Linked DNA regions of Homo sapiens: region 2 is linked to region 1. A link means that fine-mapping ties the variant in region 1 to the expression of a gene that starts in the linked region. Tissue or cell type: sun-exposed skin. Region 1 holds a variant in brackets; the other region holds the start of a gene. All regions are shown on one strand. Distances are between the middles of the regions.

The links. PIP is the estimated chance that this variant, and not a neighbour inherited with it, causes the effect.
Region 2: SERPINB9 starts here. The variant in region 1 is fine-mapped to the expression of SERPINB9 in sun-exposed skin (GTEx, PIP above 0.99).

Annotation. Positions count from the first base shown.
Region 1 is chr6:2,766,706-2,774,810 of GRCh38, forward strand. WRNIP1 (WRN helicase interacting protein 1) reads left to right here. Exons shown (of 7, transcript NM_020135.3): 2 at 1,986-2,177; 3 at 3,415-3,656. It also overlaps a transcript of MYLK4 not described here. Among named protein-coding and RNA genes, the nearest start is that of WRNIP1, 5.4 kb to the left of the region's middle. The variant A/T (reference allele first, on the strand shown) is at 4,365.
Region 2 is chr6:2,898,876-2,906,980 of GRCh38, forward strand. It overlaps SERPINB9 (serpin family B member 9), which reads right to left and starts at 4,434. Exons shown (of 7, transcript NM_004155.6): 1 at 4,326-4,434; 2 at 1,569-1,746. The coding sequence starts at 1,736. SERPINB9-AS1 (SERPINB9 antisense RNA 1) reads left to right here. Exons shown (of 5, transcript NR_110841.1): 3 at 154-244; 4 at 1,041-1,181; 5 at 1,608-1,801. RefSeq lists an enhancer at 3,898-4,399 and silencers at 4,110-4,159, 4,400-4,479, 4,580-4,629.

The sequences.
Region 1 (8,105 bases):
CAAGATGTGGACTCTTAGATTTGATCTGCCTTTATCTTCCATCGGTCTCCCCGCCCCCTCCCCAGACTTTGATTTAGTAACCGAATTCGCAAGGAATCAGCATGTTTAAATTGTAAAGAAACATTTGTATATTCCGTTTGTACATAATAACGGATTCAGCTTTGAAAAAAATCAAATTAATTCTGTTGTGCTTCCTTCCTTTTCCACTAGTTGTTGGTTTAACAGACTGGTATTTATTCTTAAGAATAAGTTTATTTAACATTCTTATATTCTTGAGAATATATTGATTTTACTAAATATACTCATGTATTTACAAAACTAACATAAAAACTTTTTCATCTGCAAGTCATTTTCATCCGGTATTTCCGTAACTTTTCTCATAATGCCTTGTACTCTAGAGAAGAAACATCCGTGCATTTTGGTGTCCAGTTCTGTGTCCCTTCGTGAGGCGTTAGCGTTCCAGATGAGGGCAGTTAGGATATTGTGAGTCTAGAAAGCATGTCATTGGAAAAACACTTGAGAAAAAAATGGAGGAGGTGAGCCAGAAAACAGAGAAAGCTAAGAAGTGCTTAAATACAGGATGCTTTTATCCATAATAAGGGAGAAGAACCAGCATCAGGAAGGGAAAGGGAGAATTCAGGGATCAAACTGTAAAGAGTTCTTGTAGCTTTGAGATTCAGACTCGTTTGCACACAAGGCTTTTATGATTTTTCTCCTATTTTTCTTTCTAGCTTTATCTCCCACAACTTAAGCACACCCCCTTTAACTCCAGTTCCTGGAATGAATTGCCCTTTTTGTGCCTTCTTGTTTGCACTCATGCCTTCCCTTTGGCCAGGAATAAACCACATCTATCCCAAATAACATCTTATGATGATGGTGGTCGAGTTGTTGACGTCTGTCCCCATGGATTTAGTTGTTAACCCCATTTAAGGGATTGAGCAGTATCATTCTTAGTAATTGTGAAGTCTTTACATAAGATCATGAGAATGGATAATCAGCTGTTGGTGGCCCCAGACAGCAAGAAGGTCCTTAGGGAGACGAGTGGGTGAGCTCATCCCACCTACCAAATGCCAGGCAAGAGGTTTGGGTGGTCCAGGCTGCTCAGTGAGATGGGCGTTGGTCATTTGCAAGCCTAGGCATCTGTGACTTGCGAGCCTGATTCCAAAAGGCAGGCAGGCGGGGATTTCTGAAAGAAGCAGCCACAGAATGGGTGCTCTACAACTTTTAGAAAAGAAAGTACCACCTTTCCATTTAGGTGCAGATTTGTCACAGTCATTAAACAGTCTTCAGTTTTTCTTCTCATCCTTTAGTACTAATAACAACATTCATATTAATAACAGCATATACATATTTGTTGAGGACCCAAGAAGTGCTTTACCTGGGTCTCCTTGGTTTTCTAGTAATTGCTAATGTGACCACAGTGCTGCCCTTCATCTCCTACCAGAGTGAACATGCAGAAGTGGCCTACAGTCATCTCAAATGCTAGGTGGATGTCATTGGTCTCAAGGCAAATGCTCCCTCACTCTCCTTTTCTCAGCTGTCCTGAGCTTCCAGTTCGGGCTGTGGTTCTGCGATGAGTTCTGCACCTAGATCCTTCCGTGCTGTCTCGGCTAGAGGAGGGAGAATTTTCTCTTTGGTGAGAGGTCACAGCTGTCACTCTGCTAAATCAAGACAGCCGTTCTTTACTGGGATTCCAAAGATCTTAAAGAGTCACCCAAAAAGGAATCAAAGGTGGTTAGGGACAGAGGAGAAAAGGTCAGGATTAGCCTAAGGTTTAGCTACTTTCCTGTTTTATTTATAATATTTTTGTTGTTGTTGTTTTTAAATGTCCTGTGGTATTTTTGATTGTTTCTGTGCTGCTCAGCATTCTTCCGAGGTCAAGTTGCTTTTGGTAAATAGTGATGCTGCGTGTGGTGGTTCCCATGGGTGCTGGTCTCTCTGTGTCTTACCAGCTTTTCAAACTCCATGTATGTCATCTTTTCTAGACCACTCTGGCTCACATCATAGCCAGCAACAGCAAGAAACATAGCATAAGGTTTGTGACATTATCTGCAACAAATGCCAAGACAAATGATGTGCGAGATGTCATAAAACAAGCTCAAAATGAAAAGAGCTTTTTCAAAAGGAAAACCATCCTTTTTATTGATGAGATTCATCGGTTCAATAAATCTCAGCAGGTATATTAACTTCCTTCTACCTTTTGGTCGTTGTGAACATCAAACAATATAAAGTGTGTGAGATCACTATACAAACGCTAGAGACTTACGAGCTTTGTTTACAAAGAAGCGTAGGCTTGTGAACCCATCTCCTTCAAGCCTATTTCTCCATACATTTCTTAGTGTTTTTTGATAACAAGAAAATGCTTTCTCTATCTGATAAATGAAATGGTTGGCATATCCCTGAGCTATACGTATCAGAAAAGCACCTTTGAATCAAATTTCCAGTTTTAGGAATTTTTAATCTAAATACTAGGAGTCATTGTGAACAGTAAAATAATGATTTTAAGGTCATTATTTTAATGGGTTTTTAAAAATTACTTTAACAGTATTTTTATTTTGAAAATTAAACAATCGGTATTTTCTGTAACTCCAGGCTCTGTCTTCAAGGTGAATGTTGGAAGAGCTAATGATTACTGTTTATTTAAATGGGTTTCTGAAATAAAAGGACACAAGCTATTTTTATAAACAAAGCCACTTAGGGATTTAAAAAAAAATAAACATTAAAATTTTATTGGGCTGAGATCTGAGAGCTATACTCTAAATAAAAAAAAATTAAATTTTTAGGCATAACTTTAAAAAATTTTTTTTTGTAACTTTTTAATCATACATAGAATATTTCACAAAACTCTACTGAGCCTTTTTTGAACCTTTTTGAATAAAAAGACCCTTTTAAAGTTCTGACGAGGCGTTAGCATTCTAGGTTTCATATTGGACCACTGACTCATCTTAGTATTTTTTCCCCATAAAACAGCATAATAGGAATAATAATAATATGATTGAGTGCTTGCTGTGGAAGAAGATTCTGGAAGTGTTAATGTTTTTGTGTGTTCTTGTCTATAAATAAATAGCTGTTACATATAAGCTATGTGCCAGTTCAGCCTTTGGTAGAAGATGGTTTTCTGAGTAAAGAAATCATTTATGTTGAAACTAAGCTAGAATTCTACTTAAAGCTATTAGTCTACCAGCAAGAGATCAGGCTTGGACGGGCATTCCAGAAGATGTGTTTCAGACTTAAAAGCAAGAGTTGTACTCCCCCAAATATTGCATCTATATTCAGTGAATATAAGGCTGCTGCTATTCCTGAACTCGAAAGATAAAAATGAGGAAAAGGAAGGAAGGGATAGCCAACTTACATAGGATTCTGCAGGTGGCTGTTGACTGGAATCACTTTTTTCTGTTTTCCTCCCATGATTAGGACACTTTCCTTCCTCACGTGGAATGTGGGACGATCACTCTGATTGGGGCAACCACTGAAAACCCTTCCTTCCAGGTCAACGCTGCTCTTCTGAGCCGCTGTCGAGTGATTGTTCTTGAGAAGCTTCCAGTAGAGGCAATGGTGACTATTTTAATGCGAGCGATCAACTCCCTGGGAATCCACGTCCTAGACTCTAGCCGTCCCACTGACCCTCTGAGCCACAGCAGCAACAGCAGCTCAGAGTAAGTTGACAGTGTGCAGCGTCCTGGGGGCACACACCTCCCAGAGAGTCTCCTGGCAGGGGGCCAGAAAGGGCCGGGCGTCAGTGAGGAGAGGGTGGGGACAGAGAAGAAATGTTGATCCGCCCGTAATGAAAATAAAAGAGGAGGGAAATGTTCGATTATACCTAACAAAGTTATCCCTGCACACTTGAAGATGCATTTTCCAGCCTCTAATATGTGTTTCTATAATTCTTCAAGCTTTAACTTTGCTTTGTTGTTTTGGTTCTTGGGTGTTTGCTTTTGTGCTTAGGCTTCTATGGGAAGCCTTATTGATGATTTGAAAGGCTTTATGTCCCTCATTGAATAGAACAAATAGATAGATAAATACTTTCTAGACTTACCATACAACTCTTTTGAGCATTGTACTCATGTTTCAATTTCTTTTTAACCTGCAGTTTAGCATTTTGTTAAAAAAAAAAAATCAAGTAAAAATTAACTTGTAACCTTAAAATTATGTAATCCTTTTTGTGTAGTTGAAACTCAGTTTCATGAAAGTAAAGGAATGTTAACTGAATATGACATTATAGGCTGTCCCTATCCTTTTAGTGACCTATTTCTGCATCATGAGTACCACATGAGCTCGTTAATGCACCAAGTGTATATCATAGATAATTTGATTTCTTGGGTCAGGGGTTTTCCTTTTTTTTAATATTAGAACATATTCTTCAG[A/T]TGGTATTTGTTCATACGTTGGCTGAAATACTGCCATGGAACATAATCTGGTGTGATGAGAGGCTATTGCCCACCTCCTCCTGCTGTGGACTCTGCAGCTGCTCGTGCCTGCCCTGAGGCCAAGTTCTGGAGCCACTTTTCTGTGAGGATTAAAGTACAAGGCATAGTTTAGGCTCAGGGTTTAGGTTTCACCAGGCTCTCCCTATGTGTCTGGCCCCATTTGCTCCTGTCTGAGATGGAGGGAGAATTCTGCTGTGTCTAATGAAAGCATTGAAACATTTGGCCCGTGGACCACTGGGTAGGACAGAGTGGCCTTGTTTTGGAATACCGTTGTGATGGGGATAGCCATTACATCTGTGGCCACAAGCAGTGTGTGGAACCTGTGGTATCAGCCACATGGACTCATACTCAGAAGTGCTTTATGTGGTGGGCATTTGTCAGAGCCTAAGGGGGCTGCCAGCTCCTCATATGTAGTACAGGTTGAGTATCCCAAATCTGAAATCCAAAATGCTCCCAAATCTAAAGCTTTTTGAGCACCTTCATGATGCTGTGAAAGGAAATGCTTATTGGAGCACTTCAGATTTCTGGATTTTGGGTGCTCATCTGGTAAGTATATAATGCAAATATTCTAAAATCAAAAAAATAGGAAATTCAGACCACTTCTGGTCCCAGGCACTTCAGATGTGGGATACTCATGTGTAGGTTTCCCGTAACAGAATTCTCATTACAGACGCATAGAACCACATGGTAAAGACAAATTGAAAGAAAAGGGGGGAAATCCTAACATGTTTCATGTTTCTGTGTGTTCTTTGCTCTGTGTACTGGTTATCGTAATGTATCTGCAACTTAATATTCTGCATGTGTACTTGTCTGGGGTGATTTTTATTGATTTCATGTCATCAGTTCATGAAATAGAACATGAAATCAATAATTAATATTGATGACATGAAGTCAATAATAATCAGTTGTTACTCAGATACCCTCAGGTTTTTTCACCTCTCCCCAGTCACTGCCGTGCAGGAATTTAAAGGAAATGAGAAAGGCGGCAGCCAAGGAGCTCATCCTTGTGAGAAGAATTTCTATATTTTATTATTAAAAATCCTCAGGTGATTTGCAGGCACATTAAAGTTTGAGAAGATCAAGTGAAATAATTAAGATTTAGTTATTGAAACTGATATAACAATGAGCTAGAGATTGTTTATCTGCTAAAATTGCTTTTCAGAGAAAACTTCCCATATCCAGTAAATGATTTACTATTTCCACTACCGCTTGCTTAGACTTGATCCCAATTATATTTGCTATCTTGTGTCCCCCGCTTTCCTGGGAAGACTGTGAGGACAGGAGCTTGTCCCTGTTCATATCCCCAGCACAGTGCCTGGCACACATTATGTGCTTTGTGAATGGTTTGGAAATGAATAAATCCTAGCTTTCGATATGAGAAAAGTAGTTTAATATGTTTTGCATTATCCAGCATAAGGGATAATTACCCAGGTATCAAGAGCCTTTTTCTTTAATACTATTGCCCTTTTCATCAGCAGCAAGCAGAGTAAAATGAAAGAATGTTAAGCTTAAAACCATTAATTGGTCAACTTGTTAGCAATTCTAACAAGAAGTTAAGTTAGGAGATATCATAGGCCACAGAAAGAACTCTTACAAGTGATTTCCGAATACAAGTACCTGCCACCCCAACTGTCAGGGATAATTAAGAGTGGATTGGGATGTCTTTTAGTTGTTTTAGGTAAAATTTTGCTTTCCAATCCCTGTTGACAGCTCTATATACATCCTTGTGCATATAAATCAGATTTGGTGACACTAATCTAGTTGAAAGAAAAGACTTCCAACCCCATATACTTACTTTCTCTCTCCAGGAAGCTATTGGTGTGCATTTGTATTCTTGTGTCATGTTTTGGTGCCCTAGATAGCAACTAGAACATTTACAGAGAAGTCCCAGGCTGTTGAACTGCACGTGAGAGGAGGTGAGCAGGGCACTGGATTTGGAAACTAATCAAGCTGCCGCTTAGCCGTTCTTGATTGCACTTGAGGAATTGTGAGTTGTCACACAGTATACTCATGTAAGTGATAAATTCCCATTAAAGTGAAATAAGTGTTCTTTTTTTAAAAAAAAATTCCCTCCTGTAGTTATTATTCAGTCAAAATTGAAGCTCCTGCATATGCTAGGCATTGGCTGAGGGTTGAAAAGCTTGTTCCTGTGCCTTCAGAGGGAGCGCAGTATGATGAAGGCTAGGGGAGCAGGTCCACTTCCAGTGCCACGCTTATACGCCAAGTGCAGTGGGCGTAGAGAAGCAGCATTCAGAATATGTGAAATCCAGTATTTCACCTCCTAGATGAGGGGATGCGGAGTTGAGTTTTGAAGGATAAGCAGAATTTAACTGAGTGAAATAGAAAGCTCATTGTCTACGCCATAGTTGCTTTGGTTTGTATGGCTAAGCAGTAGTGTTCAGGTATTTTGCTCTCCCAAAAATATTTGGATCACATGATACAAACAGTGAAGATTCTGTCTGCTCTGGGTTAATTTTGGAGGCCAGGAAAAAAATGTCCATGATTCATGATACGAAGAATGAGCTTGTGCTGCTGAAAATGAAAAAGTAAGCTAGCATTTCGTCATCCTGCACTACTTGCTGCTTTGAAGGAATATAGATTCCTAGGTCATAGAATATATACATAGTCAAAAACACTCCTAAAGAATCAATTATTTGTGAACCAGATAGAGTATACAAGTCTTTGGAGATCAAGAGAGTGAAATGAGAAGCCATAACTGCCCTCTGCCTAGCTAGGCTGAGTTCCGAGAGGTGGTTGGAAGACAGAAAGTGGCGTCTGTCCCTGGGTAAGGGCTGTGGCGTAACTGGGTGTGGGGCTTTTCTCTAATCATCTGGAGAGGAGAGCCCCTGACAAGCTGGCCCCCAAACAAGGTGGCTATGGATTCTTCTTTTTATAAAAGTTTAAAGTGTCTTAAATAACCTTTTGTGCCATTGAATAGAAAGAAAGGTAGTGGAACTCCAGAATACAAGGGATTGGCCAGAATAAATGGTTGGTATAGAGTAGATGTCAATCTTTTTATTTAAAAATTTTTTAAGTACATTAATACAGTACATTAACATAGCTGTTTTAATACAAGGGTGCATTAAAATAATGCCATAAAAGCACCAGCAGCCAGAACCACAGATCTCATGGTCCTTGGATGCACTTCCTGTGGCTGCTGTAACAATTGCCACAAACTGGGTGGCTCAGAACACAGAGCTTTATCCTCACAGTTCTGAAAGCCAGAAGACCAGAATCAAGGTATCAACAAGGCGATGCTCTCATCCAGCATCTGATGGCCCTTGGCATTCCTTGGCTTATGACTATGTCACTCCAGTCTCTACATCCATCTTCACATGGTGGCCTTCTTCTCTGTGTCCTTACGTCTTCTCTTTTTCTGTGTTTTGTAAGGACATTTGTCATTGGATTTAAGGTACACTCTAAATCCAGGATGATTTCATCTTGAGACCCTTAGTTACATCTACAAAGACCCTATTTCCAAATAAAGTCACAGTCACAGGTTCCAGGGATTAGGACTTACATCTTTTGGGGTCACTATTCAACCCACTACAGACCCCTACCAAGTATAATGTAATTTGGAAAGACATGTGCCTCCATGGGATTAAACAGAAAGACGTCGTCATCTGAAATGTACCTTCTCTCTTTGTGGAGAAAGTCAGTTTTGTTTTGCTTTGCTTTCAC
Region 2 (8,105 bases), 130 kb after region 1:
CTGTTTGATGGATTCATAGGGATTTTTTCCTCCCTTCTACTTTTATTTTTTAAAAATTTTTATAGTGGACTTTTACCAGTTATATAATGAAGGAAAAATAAATAATTCTTTAAAATATTTCTGCTGCCATTAACGCTTCCCTGCATGTTACAGGTAGCAACGTGTACTCAGTATGTTTGGTGTCTCACAAGCATCCAGTTGAACACTGGAGCCATGGAGAGAGCTCAGTCTCACACCTAAGAAGGTACCCAGACAATTTTGGTGCTCTCAAAAAAGCTTTCTATAAGGGTTTATCAGTGAGCCTAAAACATAGAAAAAGATCATACAGATTTCAGCATAAGGAACTTCAGAATCAAAATGGAGTCACTAATATTAAAAAAACAAAACCAAAAACCTTTGACAAACAGACAGGGAAGGCCATGAAGAGAGGGTTCTCACGCTTGAATGCCTGATAACACAACTATCACAAAGGACTCTAAAAACCTACGCTCTTGCACAAAGGCCATCACAGCCTTACACAACAAAATACTTGTGCAAGGACATCTACCCAGGAACTCCCCATCCAACCTCACACTGACATCACCTTCGTTATTGATCTTTTTGCCAAAAATAATTATTTCAAAGGAATTATGTAATCCTCTTTACTTTTTCCTTTAAAAATCTTAGTGTTATTTCACCTCCCTGAATGTGCACATAGCTTGCCATGGCATGCGTATTTTCATTGCAATGCCCTATTTCCAAATATATATATCTTTTAGAGAGCCTCTCTGTGCTTATTATTAAGGCTGGTAGCCTTTACACATAAACCCTCCCTTCTTCACACAATGAGCTGGGAAATTATTAAAATGAGTAATTCACTATTGAAAAGCGTCATCAAAGAAAAAGACAGTCATATTGAACAAAGGACAACTCCCATGATGAAGGCGTGTCCAGCGGCCTGCACTCAGGGATGGCGCTTTTCGGTTTCATCTCACGTGTATGTCTCCTCTCCTTTCCACAAAGGTCTGGGGACAAGCACTGATCTTGAATCATTTCCACAGGTTCTCTGAATGTTGGTGAGACTGAGCTGAGCAGTACCTGCACAGTGTGCAGCTGTAATGAAGCACTTGCCCTGGAATCCTTCTTGCAAATTTCTGTTGATGCCCTCCCTGAGCTGTTGGTACAGAAACAACTTGAAACAGGTATTAACCTTCCTTACCAATGAAAGTTTAGTTACAAAGTCTCTTGCTCCAAAAAAGAGGTAGTTCTTTGCAACTTATGTTTCAAATAATTTCAGTGTCATTTTCTAAAGAAAGATTCTGCGCTAGGACAAGACAGCTTGGATGGTCTTTTCCAAGGGATTAACCGAGGAAAGTTTCCCCCAAATAAATCTCGGTGGAGCAGAGTTCCTGCCTCCCTGCCCTGCCCCACTTCTTCCCCAGTGGACCCCGCCTCCCTGAAACGGCCAGTGCACACTCGGGCCCCAGTCCTGCCCTCCTTTCTCAGTGGCTCTGGAGTGTGAGTGTGAAGCTGGTGACAGAACACGCAGCCCAGGCCAGTCCCTGCTCCTGGCGGACGGGCAAGCTTACCTGGGCCATCTGGGTTGCGGTGTTTCCCTTTGCCCCTAGGAGAACCATGGCCAGGGCAGAGGAGATGCTCACAGGAGAACAGAACACGTTGTGCGAAGGGTTATCTTGACACAGTATCTTTAAAAGGCGTATGGCAAAAGTACCACTTGCATTAGAAAGAGTTTCCATGATGCAGGGCCTGGAAGGGAAGAATAAAGAGAAATGCAGTTTCCACACTCCCTGAATGTTACTGACCTACTTACTACAGGGCAATTTTGGAATCGTACTTTTTGTTTTCTTCTTAAAGTTCGTAAGTATTTTAAATTGGAGAAAAATTTATTTTCTGTTAGTCTCCGGCCAAAAATTAAGTGCAAATGTTAAGGTAATTAGCTAAGTGTGGTGATGGCAGCAGCTCAAACCAGCAATAGCAACAGAACTGGCTCGCCTGCAGAGCTCGCTCTCTCACACACACACACACACACACACACAGAGCTGGAAGCAGTGAACTCCAATTCTTTCCGTAAGGACCAGATCGTCCCATCTGAGGAGGAGAATGGGGTCAGGGAGGAGGAGGAAAATGCTGTTCTTATTCTTGCATGCATTTACAAAGAGTCCTTGTGAGATTTTCAACTGGGCACCAGCCTGTGGCCTCCCTGACATTCAGCTGATACACAAAAGACACTGAGATGCTGAATCTGACCCAGAGACAGACAGCTGTGAGGCAAGGAGCTGTCATCCATAGAGGCAAGTGAGTGCGTCCTGGACAGCCGGGGTGGAGCCAGGCTGCTCCCAGTCAGCCAGCCTGCCCCAGGCCCACGCGGCCTGACATCCCAGTAACTCCATTCAGAGCTCCTGCCCATCACCAGCTTCTGCACATCATGTGACCCTTGAACACAGAGTGGGACTTGGACAATTGTGTGGTTTTGCTTCGTTTTGTTTTGTTTTTAATGTGCTTCCTAACTCAGAAACATCTATTTGGGAGCTTTACTCATTACTCCCAGCAAAAGCCATGAGTGTAGATTGTGCGTGAGAGGAAGGATCTGATCCCTGCAGAACGCCAGAATGGAAAGGCAAGAAACAGCCCAAGGTGAGGAGTAAAACAGGCGAGAACAAGGAGGTGGTGCCTGTGAAGCCACTGGAGACCAAAGTGTGAATGTGAGGGGGTGGGTCTCTTGGCCACAGGCCTGAAACCAAATGAACCCCCACCCCCAGGCTGCAGTTCCCAGTGCACTTGGAAATGAGACCCTGACTCCTCCAGGTGAGCCTGGGAGACCTCCCTGACTCCTTTCCATCTCCCCCTCCTCCCCCACACCCATCCCCAAGGCCTGCCCTCTACGCCCACATTTCTTCCCACTTCGGATTCTGTGCCTGGTCTAATGCCCAGGCCCCCTCCCGAGCCTCTGGTCTCCCTAGAGCCACTCCCCACTGTCGGGACACCTCATCTGTGCTCCCCAAAACGCCACGCAAAGCGCTGGAGAGCCTTGGACAATGAACACAACCCACTCCCCCAGCCACCCCCACGCCACAGCCACACGGCACCTCAGAAAGCGGTGTCTTAATCCTCTTGTCCTTCCTCCTAAATCTCCCAGGGGCCCTTAGGCCCCTCAAAGGTGGCCGCTCAAAGCCACCTTGTTAAAACGGTGTCTTACCCACCTGCCCCCTCCCTTGATCCAGACTCACTGAGGTCACAGCCTCCACCTCTGGCCATCCTGAACCCCTCCCAAAGTCAACTCTTCACAAACACTGTTGGTCCCCCTTAGAAGGCCCCATGTCCATCACGGCATTAATTCCACTCACCCTCAAACACCGCGGCCCGGAGGCTCTGATTCCCACCCTGGAGGAGGTTCTCTTGACCCCGCCGGCGCGACCCTCCCCAGCACGACCCTTCCTCCCGAAGGTGATTCCTCATCTTGCTGGTGGTCCCCACAGACCGCAGGCTCTGCAGGCGAGCGCTGAGCCTGGCTCTGCAGATTCTCAGGACCCCATTCGTTTAGCTGAATTATTGAAAGAATTAAGATGGATAAGAGTGCTCAGATTTGAAACTCCGAGACTGGTGGCTTTATTTTTTTGTTGTTGTTGGTGGTGGTTTTTTTGTGTTTTTCTTTTTTTTGTTTTGAGACGAAGTCTCACTCTGTCTGCCAGGCTGGAGTGCAGTGGCGCAATCCCAGCTCACTGCAACCTCTGCCTCCCGAGTTGAAGTGATTTTCCTGCCTCAGCACATAGCTGACATTATTACAGGCGTGGGCCACCATGCCCGGCTAATTTCTGTATTTTTAGTAGAGACCGGTTTTCACCACGTTTGCCAGACTGGTCTCGAACTCCTGATCTCCAAGGATCCGACCGCCTTGGCCTCCCAAAGTGCTGGGATTACAGGCGTGAGCCACTGCGCCCGGCCGAGACTGGTGACTGTAAAGGACAGTGAAGAAGCAGGACAGACGTCATCCTGCGGATCCCAGAGCAGAGAAGAGCAGTGAGAACACAGGGCCGGCAGGTGGGGAGGAGGCTGCAGGGGAGGGCTTCGGCCAGGGAAGGGCAGCGAGGAGACATCCGGGAGGGAGGCGTCCGCGGTGGCTGTGGGCCGCCAAGGCGGAGACCGGCTGCCGCTCCCAGGCACCCCCCAGAGACCGTTGCTGACCCCACCGAGAAGGCACCGCCTCCCCGGGGCTCTTGGCTGAGCGACCTCTCCTGTCCTCCGGTCCCATCACTCGGTGGCAGCCGGTGGACCTGAAGCTCGCCACTCCCGTCCCCTACCCCAGCCGTGCGCGGGGACGCCCTCACCTGCCACCTAGTCCAGCGCTGCCGCCGTCTCCGTGCCGCGCTCCGAGCCTGGACGCCGACCCCCGAGGCGCAGGACCCGGCCCTGCTGCTGCGCTCGCCGCGGACTCCCGCTAGGGCCTCTGCAGGCACCGCTTTTATACCGCAGGGTCGGGCGCCTCCCACGCTTTCTGCGTTTAGGCGGAGCCTGGCGGGACCAGCGGGGGCGCCGCGCGTGGTGGCCGAGGTCAGAGCTGGGAGCAGGGTCAGGTCAGGGTCCCCCCAGTCCGCCCCGCCCGGGGCGATGTCCGCCAATGCTCCCGCCAGCCTGAGGCCGGCCAGGTTCCCAAGGCGCGCGCTCGGCCTCACCCACCCCCGGCGCCAGGGCCTCTTCAGGACCGGGTTCAGAACCTGACAGCCCAGAGAAGTAGGTTGGGAGCCTGCGGCGTCCAGGGCCTCCGCGCGAAGAAACAAGGCGTCTGCGGGAAAGGAGACGGAGCCTGGAACCCTGGGCTTTTGTACTTAAGGAAGCGAAGGTCGGGTGACAGCCAAGCTCCGTGTTCCAGTGGGAAGGTCCCATGGGTCTGTGTTCCACGCCTCTTGTCATGAATATGGGGGATTCACTTAGAACCAAAGCATTTGTTCCAGGTCCCACCACTAACTAGTACTAGTCCTGGGCCCAGAACCAGGCGTCCTCACTCCTAGTACCCAAGCCCTTCTCTAGCCACAGGTGTTTGGGCTGCGGTGTGGTGTAAGCAGCCCCATTTTCCCGCAAAGTGATGGGAAGAGACACTGAGTCACACGGGCTCAGGACACTCCTTGTGTCCTCTATCAGGGGGTCCAGAGGCAGGGACTCGGGGGAGTTGATGCAGCAGTTCGTGATGTCATCAGATATCCCCCCACCCCCTTCCATCTCAGGCTGGACTCAATTGGAAGCATTTCATGTTGGCACGGTGACGTCCAGAGGAAGGGAACAGACAAATGGCTCTCTCTGGAGCACGGAGCGTCGCCCAGAAGCCGTGCCCTCCTGTTTCAAATTGACCAGAATTAGAGCTTTCTCCTGAGGGCCTGAATTAGGGAGAAGCAAGGCAGGTGCCTAAGGCACAAAATTTCAGGAGGGCCACACGCATAGGTGCCAACCCTGCATTTGCGCGGCCCTGAGAATCAGAGCCTCCTTCAATTTGACACCCTAGGTGCCTAGCTTGTTTTTAAAAATAAAACCTTTATTAAAAGACAATTCACGGACCATAATATGCATCCTTTTAAAGCATACAATTCAATAGTTCTTGGTATATTGACAAAGCTGTCCAACTCTCACCACTATCTAACTCCAGAAGGTTTTCATCACCCTAAAAGGAACTGTGATACCCATTAGCAATTATTCTCCATTTCCTCCTTCCCACAACCCCTGGCTTCTGGGAGAGGCTCCGACCTCCAGATTTCTTTTCTGGCCCTGCGGATTGACCGACTGTGAAGATTTCATGCAAATTGAATCATACAATATGTGGTCTTTCCTGACTGCCTTCTTTCACTTAGCATAATGTTTTCAAGGGTCATTCTTGATGGTTCCAGGTAGCATTTGTTAGTACTTTATTTCTTTTTATAACTGAATAATACTTATAAAAATATTATAAAATCAAAAGGGAAATTAGAATGTATTTTGAAATTAATAAAAAATGAAAATAAAAACATCAAAATTTGTAGGATGTTATTAAGTCAGCTTTGGGGAAATTTTGCAGCATGAAATGCCTATATTAGGAGAGGAGAAAGGCTTCAAATCAATGACCTCAGTTTCTACCTTCAAAAACTAGAAAAAGTATAAATACATTGAACACATAATCAGTAGAAAAGAAGAAATAATAAAGATTAGAGAATAAATCAATGATATAGAAAACTTTATAATGATAGAGACAATTGATTAAACAAAAAGCTGTTATTTATTTATCCACTTATTTATTTTTTTGAGGTGGAGTCTTGCTCTATCGCCTAGGCTGGAGAACAATGGCGTGATCTTGGCTCACTGCAACCTCCACCTCCCAATTCCAGCGATTCTCCTGCCTCAGCCTCCCAAGTAGCTGGGACTATAGGCATGCATCACCATACCCAGCTAATTTTTGTATTTTTAGTAGAGATGGGGTTTCACCATGTTGGCCAGGCTGGTCACGAACTCCTGACATCAGGTGATCCTCCCGCCTCAGCCTCCCAAAGTGCTGGGATTACAGGCGTGAACCACTGTGCCTGGCCATACCCATGAATTTTAAGGCAACAAATGGGGGCATCGTTGTCAGTGCCATTGCAAGAAAGTGTCTGAGTAAACGTGGACCATGATGGCATAGTGCAAACATGTTAGCTGCCTCTGTGCTCCGAGGCCTAGAGGAAACGTCCTTTCAATCCAAATCATGTGACCAGCGATGGAAAATGGGTTTAGGAAAGGATAAAAACACAGAACTATGAAAACAAGGTTATTTTAGCTTTTCCTTTCCTTTCTCCTCTTTCCCCCACTAAAAATTGTATGGGGGGGTGGGGCATGAAATCTGTTCAGAAATAGCTAAGAATCAAGAGATTTTGCAATTACCTATATTTTTCATTTAAAATCTCTTCTACTTTATTACTTTAAGAAAGTCACAACATATCACAAAAATATTTCTTTATCTGATTGCTCATCATGGTTTTCCCAGATAGAAAATACACAGGGCCCCAGAGGAAGCATTTTTCCAGGATTTTCCAACACTGTCCGGAGGAAGGGAGTCTTTGATCCTCACACCAGGTCCAAGGATTTTTCAAAAATCACTACTTCATGATCAGACAAGCCCAAGAGAAATGACAGAATCATGTTGCTGGCCTGAAAACCTGGCAAACGTGTAAGCAGACCTCCGTCACTGAGGACCCACCCAGCAGTAACTTCCTTCCTAGCTCCAAGTTCACTGCAAATAAAGTCCCTCACCACCAATGACCCAGCCGTTGTGCGTCTCTAGACTCTTCTGCATCTTTAGCAAAGGCCACATTTTCCAGCTCTACCTGTGGGCATTTGACACACTTCCTTAAAGTCCTGCAAAGAGCAAAATATGGAGCGTGGCCCTATTCATTCTGCAAAGGTTTCCACAACTTTGAAAACATTTCCCTGCCCCCAACATGTTCCTATCATGCTTGTGACACAGTCAGGTTCCATTCTAAGACTCATGCATTCAGTTAACAAAAAATAATTCGCTTCCTGCCATGGGCTTGGCTTGGCACTTGCTGGGAACTTGGTACCAAGTTGAAGACACAATATCTGGCCCAAGAGGGCAGCAGTCTGAGGGAGAGACGGCGAGCACACTGAGGTACTTCCAAGGTGCCCTGAACACCCCTAGAATGGCCCAGCCCAACACTTAAGCTCCACAGGGACTTTCCACTAAATCTTCTGTCTCCCACACCGGACTGCGAGCCTCAGGACAGCCTAACCCTCCTTTACTAATTTTTATATTAGCACACTGTACATTTGGCCACCGGTACCTCAGGTTCCACATCCACAGATTCAACCAACTGCAGATGGAAAAATTTTTTAAAAAATCAAAAAATAATACAAAATTTAAAACAATACAGTATAACGGCTATTTGTACAGCATTTACATTGTATTAGGTATTATACATAATCTAGAGATGATTTCAAGCGTATGGGAGGATGTTACACAGGTTACATTTGCATAGGTTATATGCAAACACTACGCCATGTTATATTAGGGACTTGAGGATCCGCAGAGCTCAATGTTCGCTAGGATCCTGGAATCAATCAGATACCAAGAGACAACTGTATTTGCTGAAGCG